Regions from separate parts of the Homo sapiens genome. Here region 1 is linked to region 2. Evidence: fine-mapped QTL for protein levels in blood plasma. Region 2 holds a variant in brackets. A gene starts in the other region. All regions are shown on their forward strands.

Region 1 (8,347 bases), not on the chromosome of region 2:
CACTGTCTCAGCCAAATTGGACTGATATGATTGAGTATATTAATTTACCCAAAAAAGAAAGAAAATGACATATACCTCCTTATCATGAAGAGGGCTACATGGGGTTTATTCTAACCTGATGCCATTAAATATTCAGGTTATATAGAATGAATTATGGAACTAATCCTCTTTAAATATTTTCACCCACCAATTTTATGTTAGCATACCTACATTAAGATACTGGCTAGCATTTAGCTTTTTTTATAAGTAAATAAATTGGCAATATCATTAACACTTCCATCAATATCATTGTTTAAAGCATAAATAATAAATGAGTCCATTCTTTATTTCCTACTAGACTGAGGGCCAGAACTTAATAATAATCCTCTAAGGCAATCTTATTTTTTGGAGCTGTTTTAGTTCTCTTGAAGACAGGCAGCGTATCTTCCCAAATGATGACATGAGCCAAAGGAATGGCTGTTTAATTAAAATTTTTAACTTCATCAATGGATTGAATGATTTTGTATAAAGAGTATTGAACTGTGAGTCTTGTGCCTTGATAAATGGTGACAACCAACACCAAGTAACGCAAAACAAAAGTAAGAATTCATTCCTCCTTCTCAACCCGCCCACCATCTCAAATGGTTGCCAGATCCTGTAAATTTTAAATTCTGAAATTTCTTGGACCTACCATTTTCTCTGCATCATTACTACTTTTAGTTCAGCCCTTGTCATTCTCCCCTAAACTACTGACATAGCTTTGTGACAGGCAATTTACCTTGTTTCCAAACCATCTTCCATAGCATTGCATAAGCAATTTTTCAAAACCCAACCAGGTTACTCTGTTCTGGAACTCACCAAAAGCCTCTCTTTCTTCTGTTAAACTCTAGTCTTCTTGGTAAAGCATAAAAGGCCACCCATAATTAGCACTTATCTTTTCCTCTTCATCCACTGAGTCTCAGTAACGTTAGTCCATCTGAACTCCGCAGAACAAACCTCAGAGTCTTGGCTCCTTGTGGTTTCTCAGCTTCTCCCAGTTTTGGCGGCCTTGTCCCTCCATGCCTGGCCACATCTCATCAGGTTGTGAGTGAGGAGCTTGATGGGCAAGTTATGGTGAGGTGATTAAGTATACCTAATTATTATTATTTTTTTTGGTGAGGTCTTCCAATAAAAAAAGCAAGAGTTTTTTTGTTGTTGTTGTTTAATTTCTCCAAAAATTACTGCTTCATGTCTGCTTTTATTACTTGGCATCTTAGAACTCTGTTTACAGGTCTTTTAGCCAAGAAACTCATGACCATATGTATGTATTCTTTTCAGAATGTCAATTTTAGGTTGGCTAGAGCTGAACAGACTCCTCCAGACAGTAGCATGCTACAAAAGTTTTAAGTAGACAAATATAGTGGTAATGCAAAGGTGATTGGAGGAAGTCGAATGTCACTGAACAAAAGCTTTAAACAACTTTATGTTCCAAAAAGAAGTGCCCTTGAATATGAAGTTTTTTTCACTGATTTATCATAGAGTTTTATTTAACAATTTTTCTTTTTTCGCTTTTATATGTAGCTTAATTTGCATTCTAGTTTATCCAATTCATGCAACTAGTGTCTGTCCCTCATTTTTGTTTTTGTAGAGTCTTTGATACAAAAGTCTTTTAGTAAATATTACATGTCTTTTGCCAAGGTGTGAGGTCTAGTGCATTTAACTGTCATGAGAATGATACGTTAGCTAAAACAAAATTTATCAAAAAGCAATTACATAAATTTAGGGAATTTTGAATGGGAATTTCAGAGCCTTTGGGATGCTTCAGTAGCAGCTGTGAATGTGCTGGCAAAGCCCAATAAGTAGAGCTGAGGACTACTCATGAAAATTCCCACCGGAGCAGCTGTACTTTCTTCTGTTTCATTTATATATTACAACATTTTACTTGAAATGTAGAATACATTTTAAAATTAGGCACACATTATAATTAGAAACTATCAAAATTGATAATTCTATTTCTACAATGTTCTGATTCAATAGCAGCTTTCATTTAAATAATCGAGAGTATTATTTTCGTAGACATTAAATTTGGGTTTATGAATTTGAGGTTCTATAATTTGCTTGGGGTAAAATTGTGTTATCTTTTTACTAAACTCATTGAAATTCAGTACTTCCTGTGCTATCTTTGTCACTAATAGAAGTTACAGATATTTTTATATAACATTTTATTAGTGGAAGTTCTTTCAAATTAGGATCTGTGATAATCACTACACTGAAACAACAATATTTTTAGACTCACTTAGATCTTGATATTTCCTTCTGCAATGAGGAAGCATATGTATTACTTTATCACAAATTTAAAACATATTTTGACAAGTATATTTTAACATACTTAATTTCCTTTATGATCTTTAAAATTTTTTTTTGCCATGAAAATATTATCCTGAGAAGGAGTCTATACACAAAGAGGACTGATGGCTCAATGAACAGGCATTCAGTGGTAACACAGCTGATATTATTTTGTGTTGGATAAACAGCTATATGACCACAGGTGCTTTCTATACCTATAAGTTATAGACCGAAGCAGCTGTACTTGTCTGGCAAAGATTAGCACCATTCACAGGGTCTTATATTCAGGTTCTGTGGATCACTGCACTCTAGAAAGTCATAACTATATCGCCTTCCTTGAACAGAAAATTATGTTATTCTCTTCCTTTGTTTCATAAGTTTATTTTCCTTGTGGTTGCTCTTCTTAAACTCAGCACTTAGATACATTACTAAGCATGTGGTTTTTGCTGCCCCAAGATCCCTTCAGCTGCTTCTTCTAATACCATAATTTTCCTTCGTGATGCACACCTTCTGCACCATCAGATTCTGTGCTTTGAAAAGGGCCAACTACACTGACAACCTGTATCTATGATACTGGACATGGGGTAAGTTCCTTTTGTAAAATTGATTGGCACTTGACACATCTAGAACTGATGTGACTTAATTCTGCAACTTTAATAGTAAAAGAATGACACTTTCTACCCTGCTTTCTAAGAGAGAAGGATGTTTGCCAAGGGCTTCACAGCCATCTTCCCACCAGAAGGAAATAGCCTTTCTGGGAATAGAACTGGTAGAGAAGAATGCAGGTAAGAGACAGGAGGAAACAAACAACTTAGACCCAGAGAAAACAGTTTAAAACACACCTGAAATTAATTCTTCCCACGGACTCTTCAACTATGGTAGTAACCAACTCTGTCCTAGTTTAAGTCCTTTTAAGTTGGCTTATATCTAAGCTTGTCTTGGTAGAAGTCATTAGGAAAGTTTAGTGACTCAATCCCTTGAAAAGAAGAAAAGATTGATTAATTTTATGATATTATAATCCTTCTATTATGTAATAATTAAGTCAGTGAATGTAATATAATCAATTTTTTTGTGATATAAGCCCCTCATATACATACCTTATATTACAGCAAGAATTAATACAATTGACACATTTTACAAAGGAGTGAATAACTTCCAATGCTAAGTCACTCATCTAGATCTATAGAGAAAAGCAGTGTTATAATTTTTGTTTGTTGGACTCTAGAGTCTGTGTTTTTTCATTATGCCTGCTGAAAACAAAATATAGTATAACTTCTCTACTGGTATAAAATAAACATGAACAATATGCAATCAAAAACTCAATGGTGTAACTGCACAAATACTTCTCTCCCATCCCTATCTCTTCTTAATTTCTTGCCAAAGCAGCATTTTATTTTTTAAGCATTCATTCTAGAAAGGCCTCCAGGTGATTTAGAAATAGAAGTCTCATGACACCCCAAGAAAGATGATGTGCTGTAGGTTTACATGAGGAAGGGCGTAGCCAAACCAAGGCATAAGATAAATAAGTCCCTTCATTGAAACTAGGAAAAAAAATAGTTGTCAAGTGATGCACACAAATGTAGATGATTATCTTTCCAGTGGAACATAGAATTTCTGCATCACTGAGAAGAGTATGTTTTTTACACTGTAGCTGTACTTGGAAGGTATCAGATACTGTAGCTGAAGTGGCATAATTTTTAAGCATACTGGGGTTTGTGGCACATGTAATACAACATTCTTTGTTTGGGAAGCAGCTTCCCAGTATGTTTGAGTTATATCAGGCTAATTCTAGTAGAACTTCGATTTTGCATACATTTTCCAGGGCTATTATGCGTTTTTAGCTTTTCTATATCCTCAAATGACATGAAATTGCCTTAATGAGGCTAATTAAACAAGTGGAGACTGAGTATGCTCAAGTGTCTTTGAAAATTTTGGGTCATATTTGGGAGGCTTTTACGTAGTGTTGTATTTTAGTTAAGGAAAATAAACCTTTTTCATGAACGTGCAGATTATGTATCATTTCTCTTAGTATTTGGCTCATGGGCTTTCTTAGAGGCATAATATCCTAATATTCAAGACCAGCACCCTCAGGAGAATAATCGAATTTGAATATAATTAGAACAGTTCACAACTTAGGAAACACTGGGGAGGAAATGATGATATAGGAAGCTGACTTGAATTGGTAATGCCTTTAGGAAGCAAACACAGAGGCTGAAGCCTTATTCTGGACAGTTACTCTTAAGAAAGTTGTCAGAAGAAACGCATCTGCCTTTTTTTCCAGGTGAACTGCCGTGAGTTGTCCAGCATGATAGTGTTTATTTTCTTGGGTAAGTGAATGGTGCTTCTGGTTTATCTGAATTATTCATAATACTAATTCTTTGTAAACTGAATACCATCACACTTAAGCTTAACAGGGGCTTATAATATGAAGTACCAAGTAAATTACAAATTTATGCTTTAACATGGTTTATTCTTCTTGCAAAAATGTACACTCACTTTTACTCACTTATTTCTAACTCTATAGATAATGCAGCATGTGAAAATTGTATTAATCTCTCAGCTTGTTTCTGTTTTATTGTATAGAATGACCCAATGACTTTGAGTTACTTATTAGGATTAATGGAATTCACACATGTGTTAGAACCTTTTAGAAATAAAAATAAAACCTTCCAGTATCTATTTACAAGTTATAAGATGAAAAATTTCAAACTGTTATCTATTTTATTTATTTTGCTTTGAAATTAAACAAAAATAAGATTAATTTAAAACATTCAATTTACCTACAGTGTTAATATTTGCTAACTAGAAGTAATTTAGTGAAGTAAAACCACTTAACACCATATCAGAATGCTTCATATTTTCATTAATTTTTATGACCTAGAACTCAAGTGTGGACTTACTTCTCTTGTATTGGATCCGATGAATGTATTATAAGATGTTGATGAAAAATAATTTATTTTTATTTAATGTAGAATCCATGAATCTATTTGCTAGATGTGTGACTGGAGAATATTTTATATCTTCTTTAGCATTTGGTAGAATCTATAAACTGAATTCAGAAAAGGAATAATTGTAACTGTAGCTAGATTGTAATTTTAAAAATATGGCATTTTATGTTTAAGCTAATATATACTTGAATAAAGGCATAATTATGGGCCAGAAAGCAAAGAAGTTTACTTTAAATTGTATCGAACATAAAAGGAGAGTCATATCAAGTCAAGGAAACAAGTTAAGAAGGAGAGAAATCCCTTATATTTTCAGTTTTTCTTTTGTTTAAGTAATATTTTTCCATTGTTCCATAATTTTGCTTTTTGTAATTATTCCTAAAATATTTTCTTATTTTTATAAAGATTGTTAATATTTCTTTAGTTCTTTTTTGTGATAAAGAGAAATATAGGAAACTTTAATTTTTATAGATCAGGCAGCAATATAATGAAGCTCACAAAATACATTACAGACTCATTATGACCTCAGTTGAAAAGGCAATGGCCTCTTATTTTCATCTTTTACTTCTAAATTAACTTGACACCAGGTTGCATGAAGGAGGGAAATAACTTCTTAACATTGTTAGAACTAAAATTATACTATTTGATATGTTGTACCAACATTTCCCATATTATATTTTTTAGAATGCTTGTTTGACATTATCTAAATAGGTCTTATAATGAGGAAAATGTCTGTTGGTAAAGAAATGTGGAAAACAATGAATTTTAAAATCTCAGAACATTTAGTAGGATAATAAGCCCCATACATCTTTAAAACACTGATATAATTTGCAGCATTATCCATCTTATTAATTTAAAAATAGAAGTTATTTTTCATTGAGTATTACAGGAAAATTCTTGAAAAATCCTAGGTTAAATACAAAACCACAAGTCATAGTTTGGAATGAATAAGACAGATTTTGGAGAGGTAATACATTCTTGATTCTTGTGGACCAAATCATTGAGGTGGTTTTCTTAGTTGAGTCAATATTTTGTTGAGTAGGAAGTGTGGAAAATCCTATAAAATAATCTATTAAGAAGCTTGTTCAACCAAAAACTGAAAATGTGAAAGGAAGTAAAACATTAAAAACTGAAAATGTGAAAGGAAGTAAAACATATTTGGGGAAGACAACATGTAGTATTTCTAAGTGATTATTACTCTGAAGTACTGATGAAGTTTTGATGATATATCTGGGATATTATCACTTATAAGATTCTTGAAGGGGCTTTTCACAAGATATAATGATTAATGGCAAATAAAATACCATTTTCTTATAAGTTGAGTTTATGACTTCAAATTTCTATTTCTGGGTCTTTGGAAAACTGGATTTGACCAAGTAAATTTGTGCTAGGATCAAAAGAGTCCTCTTTTTCTTTCTTTGGGCTAGCCAAATAAGGAGTACAAGGGCTTGGCTAGATGAGGTTGTCCATGAACACATGAGAAAACAGAAAGCTGATATGTCCATTTCCACTCCAGCCCTCAGCAAGAAAAATGTTACCAAGCTACACCCATGGGCCTAATCTCCAAATGCAGTGACCCAGCAAGTAGTACACATGGTCCAATCAGTTGTCTTGGATTCTTCTTATAAGATGAGATTTGCAAAGAGGTAAGATTTAAAAAAAAAAGAGAGATTTCAAGCCCTTACTTGAAGCCTATCACTCTACATTGTCACAGGTGATTCATAATTAACAACAGCATTTAAAAATTCAAATAATTTGGCTCTTATTTAGTTATAGCTTGACTCTCTTGATGACAGTTACTACAACTGTCTCTGTAACACAATTTCAATCCCTGTATTTTTTTCTATTAATTGATTTGGCTAGTGTCACTTCATATGTTTGCAGAATCAATTTGACTAACTTGCGTAACATATTAAATTAACATTGCTATTTTCTTGATTGTTTTTAGAAAACTTGCTGGATTTCTCCTCTAGCAAAAGTAACTTGTAAATATCTGGAAGGTATTATTTTTTAGATGTTATCAGTTATTTATATATCTTATATATAAACATCTAATAACTTGGGTATAAGCCAATATTCATTTATTGAATACCTATACTGCATCACTGTGTTTGGTGACAAAAATACAGTTATAAATTATCCTTAATGTCTGTGGGTAAAGCTGTACAATCCAGTGGTGGAGACAGGCACATGAATATATACACTACAGAACAGTAAAATCTGTAATTGCGGGATCCCCACAGTTCTAGTAAATGGATGGAAGATGTCAAATTCAATTTGAGTGTGGAAAAAGGGGAGTATAGAATTCAAGTAAAGTTTCCAGAAAATAGCTAATGATTGTGTTCAGTTTTAAACAACAAAAAGGGTTATTCCAGAAGAAAAAGAAAGAAAATACTTATCAGGGATCAGACAGTAGGTATGCAGAGGTAGAAGACAGCATGGATCATTCGGGAAACGATAAATGCTTGAGACCTTCCAGATTGCACATGGTGAGGAATATGAGAGCCCTGATATGAGAAATAGTTTAAAGGATATAAAACAGAAAAATGGCAAGACTAGAATAGTACATCAGGTAGATTAGGGGTTACAAAGAACCTATCTGAATAAGGTTCTGAATAAGATTCAAACTGGAGGCAGACTGACTAATAAGTTAAACAAATGCTCAAAGTGAAAGTCAATAAATTTAGCAAGAATGAATATGGGAGAGTGAAGTTGAGGATGGAAAATAGTCTACCACAAAACCAAGATTTCTAGTTTGAGTTCTCATGTTAATTGTGGCATTGTGAATGAAGTAGTGGTCCACAGTGGAACAATGATGATGAAGATCCTGTGAAAGTGTTTCTGAAACATTCAAGTAGAGATAACAATTACGTACCTATGACAGGAACGCTGGAAATACTGAGATTAAATTATACATTTGAGAATCATCAGACTAACATTTTAGTTCAAACCATAAGAGTACATGGAATTTTCTGCAGAGAATGTATAAAATGAAAATAGAAAAGGTCTGAGAAGAGAACCTAAGCTAAAATTATACTTTACTAGAAGAATAAAATGATCCTGGGAATAATTTTAGCTATGGTCAGAAAATACAAAGT
Region 2 (8,347 bases):
TAAACGAAATGAGCTTCATAAGGATTAAAGTCTTTCTTCAAAGACCTCTACCTGTGAACAGCCACTCAGCCAGAAATGGTGCTAGCAAGAGATACACTGCCTACATGCTGTGGACCTCAGCCACGTAAAGATCCTTCTCAAGTTATTGTTCACTGATCTAGAGGAAATAGCTGCTGGGCCCTTAGCATGCTCACAATGGGGTCACAGGAGGCATGGGAGGCCTTCCATTGAAAGTCCACCTCTTCATGAGTCAGAGTCCTACACAGAAGAAACACGAGAGTCCCACAATAAAGCACTTTATCATCAGATTGATCAAAAACCTGTACATGAGTGTGTTGCCATTTTTATCCATCCATTCAACAAATATTTACTGAGCATCTACCATGCATCAGGTACTGCAGAGATACAAGAGAATACTTATTCTTGTGTAACATTCTTTGTGGGTATCAAGAAGGCAAAATGACATGCTCCTCTGCTTACAACCCTGCAATGATGCACCACTTTTCTGCAAACAAAAGCCTTAACCAGGTCCTGTGAGGTGCTATGTGATAGGGACCTACTTTCCCACACCACACCCTTTACCTCTCTGACCTCACCTCCAACTTTCCTAACCCTTGCTTCCTTCACTACAGTCACTGGCCTCTTGATTAGTCTACCAATGCACTCAGCATGCTCCCTCATTTGGGCCTTTGCACCAGCTGTTCCATGACATTGAGAAATTTTCCCTGGATTTGCTCATGGCTCACTTTCTCTACTTCCTTCAAGATTTTGCTCAAATTGCACCTTCCCCACGAGGCCTGCCTACCCTGAACACCTTATTCAAATCACAACCCACTTGCCTCTAGCATTTCCTAGTCTTCTTACTCTGCTCTAATTTTCTTTCTCTTTCCACATTCCATTTTAACATGCTATGTAATTTCCTTACTTATACTTTCTTTTATTGCCCACCCCCCAGGCTGTAAGGCCATGGGGGAGGAATTTATTGTTTGTCTGTATTGCACACTACTGTCTCTCCAGCACCTACTACAGTACCTGCTGCATAAACACTGTTGAATGAGCAGAAACAGTAAAAATACCTTTAGAACACTTTCTTTATGAAAAAAAAAAAAAAAAAAAAGCCTCTCTGGACTGGATATTTGGGGATACCATTTTAGAGCACCTGATATCACAGCTATAATTCTATGGCCCAAGCAGCTACACTGGCCCCTGAGATGTGAAGGTGAAGACACCCTATCACTCAACAGTGGATAGGGTTTCCTAAGATACCTGAACACCACTCAACTGTGCTTCCCATCCCTGCTCGTCCCATTAATACCTGTCAGTGAGCTATGTGGGTGGACAAAAATTATTTATATATAAAATGTTTATTATGTAATGGTCTGCCTTTTCCACAAGCAGTCCAAAGGAGATTGGAAACAATGAGCTGGAAGAGAGACCTATTTACTCTAGTTCCTAAATCTTCTCTGATCTTCATAATCCCTGGTATCTCAAGTGATACATGTGGTCACTTAAATTTTTTATTTCCTCATCTTGTTCTAATTTCTTTCACTCCTCAAAAAAAATAAAGAAGAAGAAAGAAAAAAATCCCTGGTGCTTTACTCCTAAAGTTTATCCATAACGTATTGTTACAGTTTCCTTGATTTTATTTGTAATTCTTGTCTAATCTTGTACATTCACAGGCTAAGAAAACTCAAGACCATTTAATCATTACAGCTCTAATCAACAGAAAAGACTTCATTATTAAAATGTTCATTTCGAAATGTGTGAAAATTGTAAATGGGGATGATGTGATGTGTATATGACATGAGATTACCGGGGTACAAAATGGGGCCCAGGGAAGCACCTTTGTTTGCCTTTATACAACAGTACAAAAGTAATCACTTGGCTGAAAGCAGATGCTGTTTTCTATCCTCATCACTGGTTAAATCACTTGTACACACGCATTGTCTTAAAGCATTTCAACAAAATTCCACTGATTGGTCTGCAAAACTGAGAGATTAAGATCCACCCCGGAACAATTTATTTACCTTCTAAAGTGAAAAAAAAAATGCTGGCACCTTCAGCTGAATAGAAAAAAATCCCATGAATTCCTTTCCTCTTTTCAAAACCTGAGCCTAATTTCTCAGCACTATGGATTCAAAATAATACATGTTAATGGATTTAGCACCAAAGAATCGAAACATTATATCTGCATGAAAAAAAAACAGTAGAAGAGATAGTTTACGTTTCCATTTTAAATAGATATTTAAGCAAAATAACCTGTTTAGAATATTCTAAAACAAATATCAATTATTTATATCTATGCCTTGCAAGTTAAACAATTTTGCTTTATGTGTATATTAACTTTAAAAGGTCTTAAAAATTCCTTTGAGGTGAAAATGGCTTTTTTCCGTGGTCAATAAAATTAGAATTTTTTTTTCTGGTAAATGAATTTTCAAAAGCAAATGTCAAAACTCAACTTAGAAAAATTCCAGTAGCTCTAATTCTATTATTAAAACTAATTTAAAATAAATTTTAGGTAGCAAGTTGTATACATATTAGAATATTTCAAGGCATTAAGCATATATTTTAAGTTAACGAATATAGAAAATTATGCACAAATAAAGAAAACACACAGATTTTACTCCATTGCTTTAGAAAAGTTAAAAAAAGTTTACTAGAATTTACAAAGTAGTAACATAATAAAGTTGGACATTAAATATTTTTAGTTTAAACTCTAAGTATATGAGAAAGCACCTTACAAAATATTTATTTGTATTTGCATGAGTAGCATTTTTTATTTATAAAAATAGCAAGCACATGCTAGCCAAGGCTGCCGTCAATTTTAAGATGAGAGTCATTGAATGATCAGAAAAGTATTAATTATACCATCTTCCACACTGAACTGAGAATAATGATCAATCCTAAGCTGTTACATTGACTGCAAGAACTTATTTTTTGATATTTTTTCAAGACGAATCCACTTAATTCTGAAAAAGAAAAATGTTTTTTTCTGAGTGCCTACTGCACGCCGGGACTATGCAAGATGCTGAATATGGGTATGAAAACAAACGAGATTGCTTTTGCTTTGTGGTATTGATACTTAACTGGGCCAATTTCCTTTACATGATGAGCTTAATATGCAGCTGTAAAGCAAGTTAATCAACAAGAGTTCTCTGTTATATTCTATCCCCTACTTTTCCCGTAGAGCTGTATAATCCTGCAAATGGCCAGCAGCAGCAGCAACAGCAGCAGTTGCTATATGGGAAATTGAAGCCAGGGCAATCACAGCAGGAATTTAACTTCTGATGGAGAAAAAGGAAGGAGGAGCAGGAGGAGGAGGAGGAGGAGAGGAGGGGCAAGAGGAGAAACAAAATATTTTAGTGGTTGATTTATTCTGATGCCCATCAGAAAGCAAGTTGAATCAAACAAAGTAGCTTCCATTCTGTAACTTTTCTGTTTAAGAAGAAAGAGGAAGACCACAGTCTCTTTATCAGGACACATAAAAAGCACTATTGATTAAGGAAAATATTAAAAAGTTAGCCTTCATTAAAATTTAGAATTTCTATTTGTCAAAAAACGCCATTAAGAAAGTGAAAAAGCAAGTTACAGATGAGGAGAAGGTATTCACAAGACATATATCTAACATAGGACTTATATGCAGGATATAAAAAGAACACCTACAAATCAAAAACAAAAAGACAATCCAATATAAAAAATGAGCATATGATCTGAACAGGAACTTCCACAAAAGGCTATTCAAATGGCTAAAAAGCATACGAAAAGGTGTTCAATGTCATTATTCACCGGGAAAATGCAAATTAAACCACAACAACATACCACTGTTCATCTACTAGGATAGTTAAAGTTAAAGAACTAGTATCAAGTGTTGTTGAGGACGTAGAGTAACTTGAGTGCTCACACATTGCTGGTAGGAGTTCAAACTGGTTCAACCACATTGAAAAGCTGTTTGGACTCTTTTCTGAAGTTAGACCTATGTTTATCCTAAAACCCAGCAATTCCACTTCTAGGTATATACCCAAGAGAAATGAATGCATGTGTTCACCAAATGACATTTACAAGTATGTTCATGGTAACATAATTCATAAAAGTCAAAAAATGAAATCATCAAATGTTCAGCAACAGTAAAGAAATTGTGGCATATTCATATAATGGAATACTACACAGCAATGAAAAGAATGAACTACTGACATACACGATAACATAGACAAAACTCACAGGCCCAAAGT[C/T]GAGCAAACAATAGATGCCAGACACAAAAGAACATATACTATAGGATTCCTATTTACATGAAATCAAAAGTAAAACACAAAACAAATCTATTGGTCAGAGTAGAGGTTACCTTTGTGGGTATCAGCTGAAAGAGAGGGGGTACAATGGAGGTAGTGTAAATGCTGTATTCCTTCTTCTTCCTGGTGGTGGTTACAGGGGTGTCTACATAAACAAAAATGTATGCTCCTACCATGACTGCACCTCTGAATTGGTCACCTGATTCTCTGAAGTCAATAATCCAGATCATGACAGACCCCTGCTCAAGCCCATGAGTGGCTCCCATTTCACTTGGGGTACAAGTCAAACTCTTTTAATGGCCCACAATAACCAGATTTGGCCACTCCAACCCTTCTAATTTATTTTGCTCCTTGCTGCTGCTAAAACATTCCTTGAATATTGCTGTCCCAGGGCCTCTGCCCTGGCTGTTGCCTCTGCCTGGAATGTTCTTCCTCGAGATAGCCACCAACCTCCCTCTCTCAGCTCCTCAAGACTGTGTTTAAATGTCATCTTCTCACCAAGCTCTATCTGAGCTCATCCTGTTTAACACTGCAAAGCCCTCACTTTAGTATGTGCATGTGTACCTGTGTGTGTGTTTGATTGAAACCAATCACAATCAGGTTTGCCACACTGAAGAAATAAACTGAGCTTCAGTGTATTATCAAAAGAGAGAAAAACACACTTTAAAAAAGTTTAACAATTTTTTAACATGCAAAACTAGCTCACATTCTTTCTCCTTTAGTCTTCAGTAAATATTTAGAATATACAAAAAAAAAACACCACATTTTTTATGTGGCCTCTGGGGAAGCTGGAAAAAAACATCAGGATGTGGGAAGAATATGACAATCTGCCTAATAGCGTCAATGGTATGTGTGTGTGTGCGTGTGTGTGTGTGTGTGTTGGGTATGCAAACATACAGAATAGAAGGCAAGAATTGAAAGCAGTGATGCAATGTGTAAAAATGAGCCCATAAGGAAAGTTAGCAAGAGCTTTTCCTTCATTTTGACCCCAAATAGTATGGAAACTTTTCCTTCCGGCTGAGGAAATGAGTTTGACTAAATAAGAGTAAGGTATGAAATTGGAGGTGGGAAACAAAGGGTCAATCAGAAGTAAAATGAGAGGGTAAATTGTTTTCTTCTGTCATGGGAGAAAGTTTAGCAAAAAAAGAGAAGAGCATCTCAGCTGCGGTGTTCTTGTATTTCTGGGACTTCTCAGGGGCTTTCACAGACCTGCACAAGCAGCTACTGAATTACACTCAGGCCACAGGAGCCAGGGGCTGGTTGACCTCACTGGTCCAGGAAGGTAATATAGCAGGATAGCCCTCCTTTGTACAACTGGATTACCCACAGTCACCTGTGCCCATCCCTGCAGGGGAAAGGGAAAAAACTGATGCTTGTGTCAGGGGGGTTTTAAGAGATGAAAGTGTGGAAAGACCTTATTTTAGAATAAGCATAGTCTGTGTAAAAGCATAAACAAGAGAAGCAGAACATTGGGTTCACAAAAGTAAAAAGACCAGGTTTACTGAAATGTGTACCATTACAGAAGCCTGAGGGTAAATTAGTCAATGAAAGGGAAAGTATACACAAATTCTAAAGTGGCAGGCAAAGGTTAGGTATTTCTCTTGTAACCCACCTCAAAGTGTTGGTCAATGGGCTGGCTGTAATGGCTTGGTTATGCCATTGGTAATAACTTTGCCCTCAGTCTAATGCTATAGTGAGGAATTCCCCTACCTAGGTATTCAGGTTGAAACCTCTTGAGGGTCATTCCTATGTTGCTGTTTGGGGTGATGCACACACAAGAAGGATACACTGACTTCCCTACCCCTGGCTGAGCCCTCACATTTTCATTTTGCACTGGGTCCTGCAAATTAGATTGCTGGCCATGTACAACGGGTTGAGGTGTGCTGGGAAATCCTCTCCTAATGAAAAGGTCAGTTACTGCACCTTGTACTTCCTGTCCCAGGGAGCTATTCCACTTCCCACTACCTGTGACCATGCTGCCGCTCCCCATCATGCTGTCTTACCACCCTCCTTCCATCTGGCAGCTGAGAGCATGGGCCTTGGCTCCAGACTGGCCTGTCCCGGGGGACCTGGAGGGTAGGGAACAGCTGCTGTTGGGAGCCACGCCTGTGAAATTCTTCACAAGCCTCATGTAAGCCATAAGCAAAGCTCTGTGCCTCTAGCAGCCTTCAACTGCATTGCCAACCACCCTAAACAGCCTCATGGTTATTCATAAGCAGGACTAGAGTCCAAGGACAAAAACTCTAGGAGGATCTGACTGACTAATGGATGCGTATTTCATTTTCAAACTGCTTATTGGTATATGTTAAAGTTTGTGATTTATTGTTGTGAATAAAAGTAGATAGGAAAATGCTTTTCAAATTCAAACTAAGTAACATTAGATAAAGTGTCATGATCAGATGTTTTCCTTTGACCAAAGATTCATGTATTTTTTTAAACAATCAAACATTTCATATTGAGGACAACTTGTAATTTTTCATATATATAACTAAAACCAATTTTTCTTTCATATTTTGAGACATATGTCTTTTCACTGAAAAAAATAAATCTACATAAATACAAATAATGTGTTCCTTCTCAAAGTTAGGGGGACATAAAAACTGACAAGGAGGCAATGGAGAAGAATCATAAACTAATAAATCTCCAGTCCCATATCCTCTTCATTTTCTCATTCCTCTAAATCATGTAAAAAGAACGGTTAGGCAAGAAGAGAACAGATTTTACAAGAATAAAAGTACAAGTCAACGGAAGAGTAAACCATTTAAAAAAAAAAGAGTTTACTAGTTTGGGGAGCTACCATCCCAAATTCTTACTTACCTCTGGATGGAATATGGCTTTGTTTTTCTTTATATTGTATTTTTTTTAAGTATTGGGTATTAAATGAAAACCTGCAAGGTTATTCTCTTAATCCAATGTAAGTGACTAACTCTGCAGATGAGTTAATAAGTAAAATAAGGGCTGAAATGTTTCCAAAAGATTTGACATCCAAGTCAGGGATTTTTCACTGAGGTCCAAGTCATTCTAAAGGCTCCATGGATGGCATTTTTTATGAGTTTTTATGAGTGTCTTGAAACAATAAAAAAAAGTTATGTTTGATGTGTCCTTTAATGAGAGAAGAGTTGATAGCTTTTGCCAAATGCAAAGGGACCTGTGAAGTCACTGCCCCTACCAACCATTAGGATCTCAGAAATAGAGTTTAATTAGCACCAACAGTTCTGGCGGAATCTTCATAGTGAGTATCGGGTTGCATGGTTTGAAGGGTGCGGCAGAATCATCCCTGCAAGTATTGAATTCCTGCTGTGGTGAAGACTTGGTACTAGGCATAGCACTATCAGACTAGTATTGAGACAACCTGCCTGACTTGGGGATATTCCCACTACAACTCTCCTGGTGGCAAAGCACTATGCAACCACTGTGTTTTTCCTCCTTATGGTGCAACAGTGATTGCTGCAAGGAATTTTCCCTTGGGTTGGCGCCTCTGATCACCTCAACAATCCTGGGAGGCACACAGAAGAGGTATAATCGACTCTACTGGAAAGAGAAGAAACTGAGGTGTTAGGAGAAAGCATTCGTTTCCCCTCATGCTCCTACAACAGTCTTCAGATTAGGAAGCTTCTGCTTCTCTCTCCAAGGAGAACAGCATTAGAAAAGAACCTGGGGGTCCTTTTTCTCCTGCCCAGTCGTGCCTCCTCTTGGGAGAAGCAGTGGCATATCTATACCTGCCAGGTGGGTAGGGAGAAGCTGGCTATGTGAGTTTCTCCCTGGGGATCCTCCGAATCCAGAGAAAAAAGACCTGGATCCTATTCGGTTCCCACCCTCCTCTGTGTAAGCAGCAGGTCAAGGCCCAGAGCCAAGACCTGACAGCAGGGGCAGATCAGGAGTTCAGCTTGCTTTCTCTTTCTGCTCCCAGTGGATGCAAGGGTGAGGTTCTAAGAAAGCACGTCTGCCCTGCAGACCCAAACTCTCCCACCAGGGAGTTGTCTCAGGGTCATGCTGAAAGAAACAAAGGAAGAGAATGAATATTAGAGATCCCAGCTCTGGTAGGTTGCCTCAGTTTCTAA

Direction of the effects. Alleles are on the strand shown, and positions count from the first base shown. The strength of an association depends on the size of the effect and on how common the allele is.
With allele C in place of T in region 2, the plasma level of the protein whose gene starts at base 4,524 in region 1 is lower (weak association).

What was found. A credible set is the group of variants that fine-mapping cannot tell apart. PIP is the chance, under the fine-mapping model, that this variant and not a neighbour inherited with it causes the effect. Protein levels are from antibody-based Olink assays in UK Biobank. Linkage for the fine-mapping came from a reference panel and not from the study's own genotypes, which makes the PIPs less certain.
Region 1: it holds the start of GFRAL, and the variant in region 2 is the best candidate, but not a certain one, in a credible set for the plasma level of the GFRAL protein (UK Biobank, PIP 0.90).

Annotation. Positions count from the first base shown.
Region 1 is chr6:55,322,946-55,331,292 of GRCh38, forward strand. It overlaps GFRAL (GDNF family receptor alpha like), which reads left to right and starts at 4,524. Exons shown (of 9, transcript NM_207410.2): 1 at 4,524-4,631. The coding sequence starts at 4,610.
Region 2 is chr8:71,478,527-71,486,873 of GRCh38, forward strand. It overlaps a transcript of EYA1 not described here. Among named protein-coding and RNA genes, the nearest start is that of EYA1, 120 kb to the left of the region's middle. The variant C/T (reference allele first, on the strand shown) is at 4,230.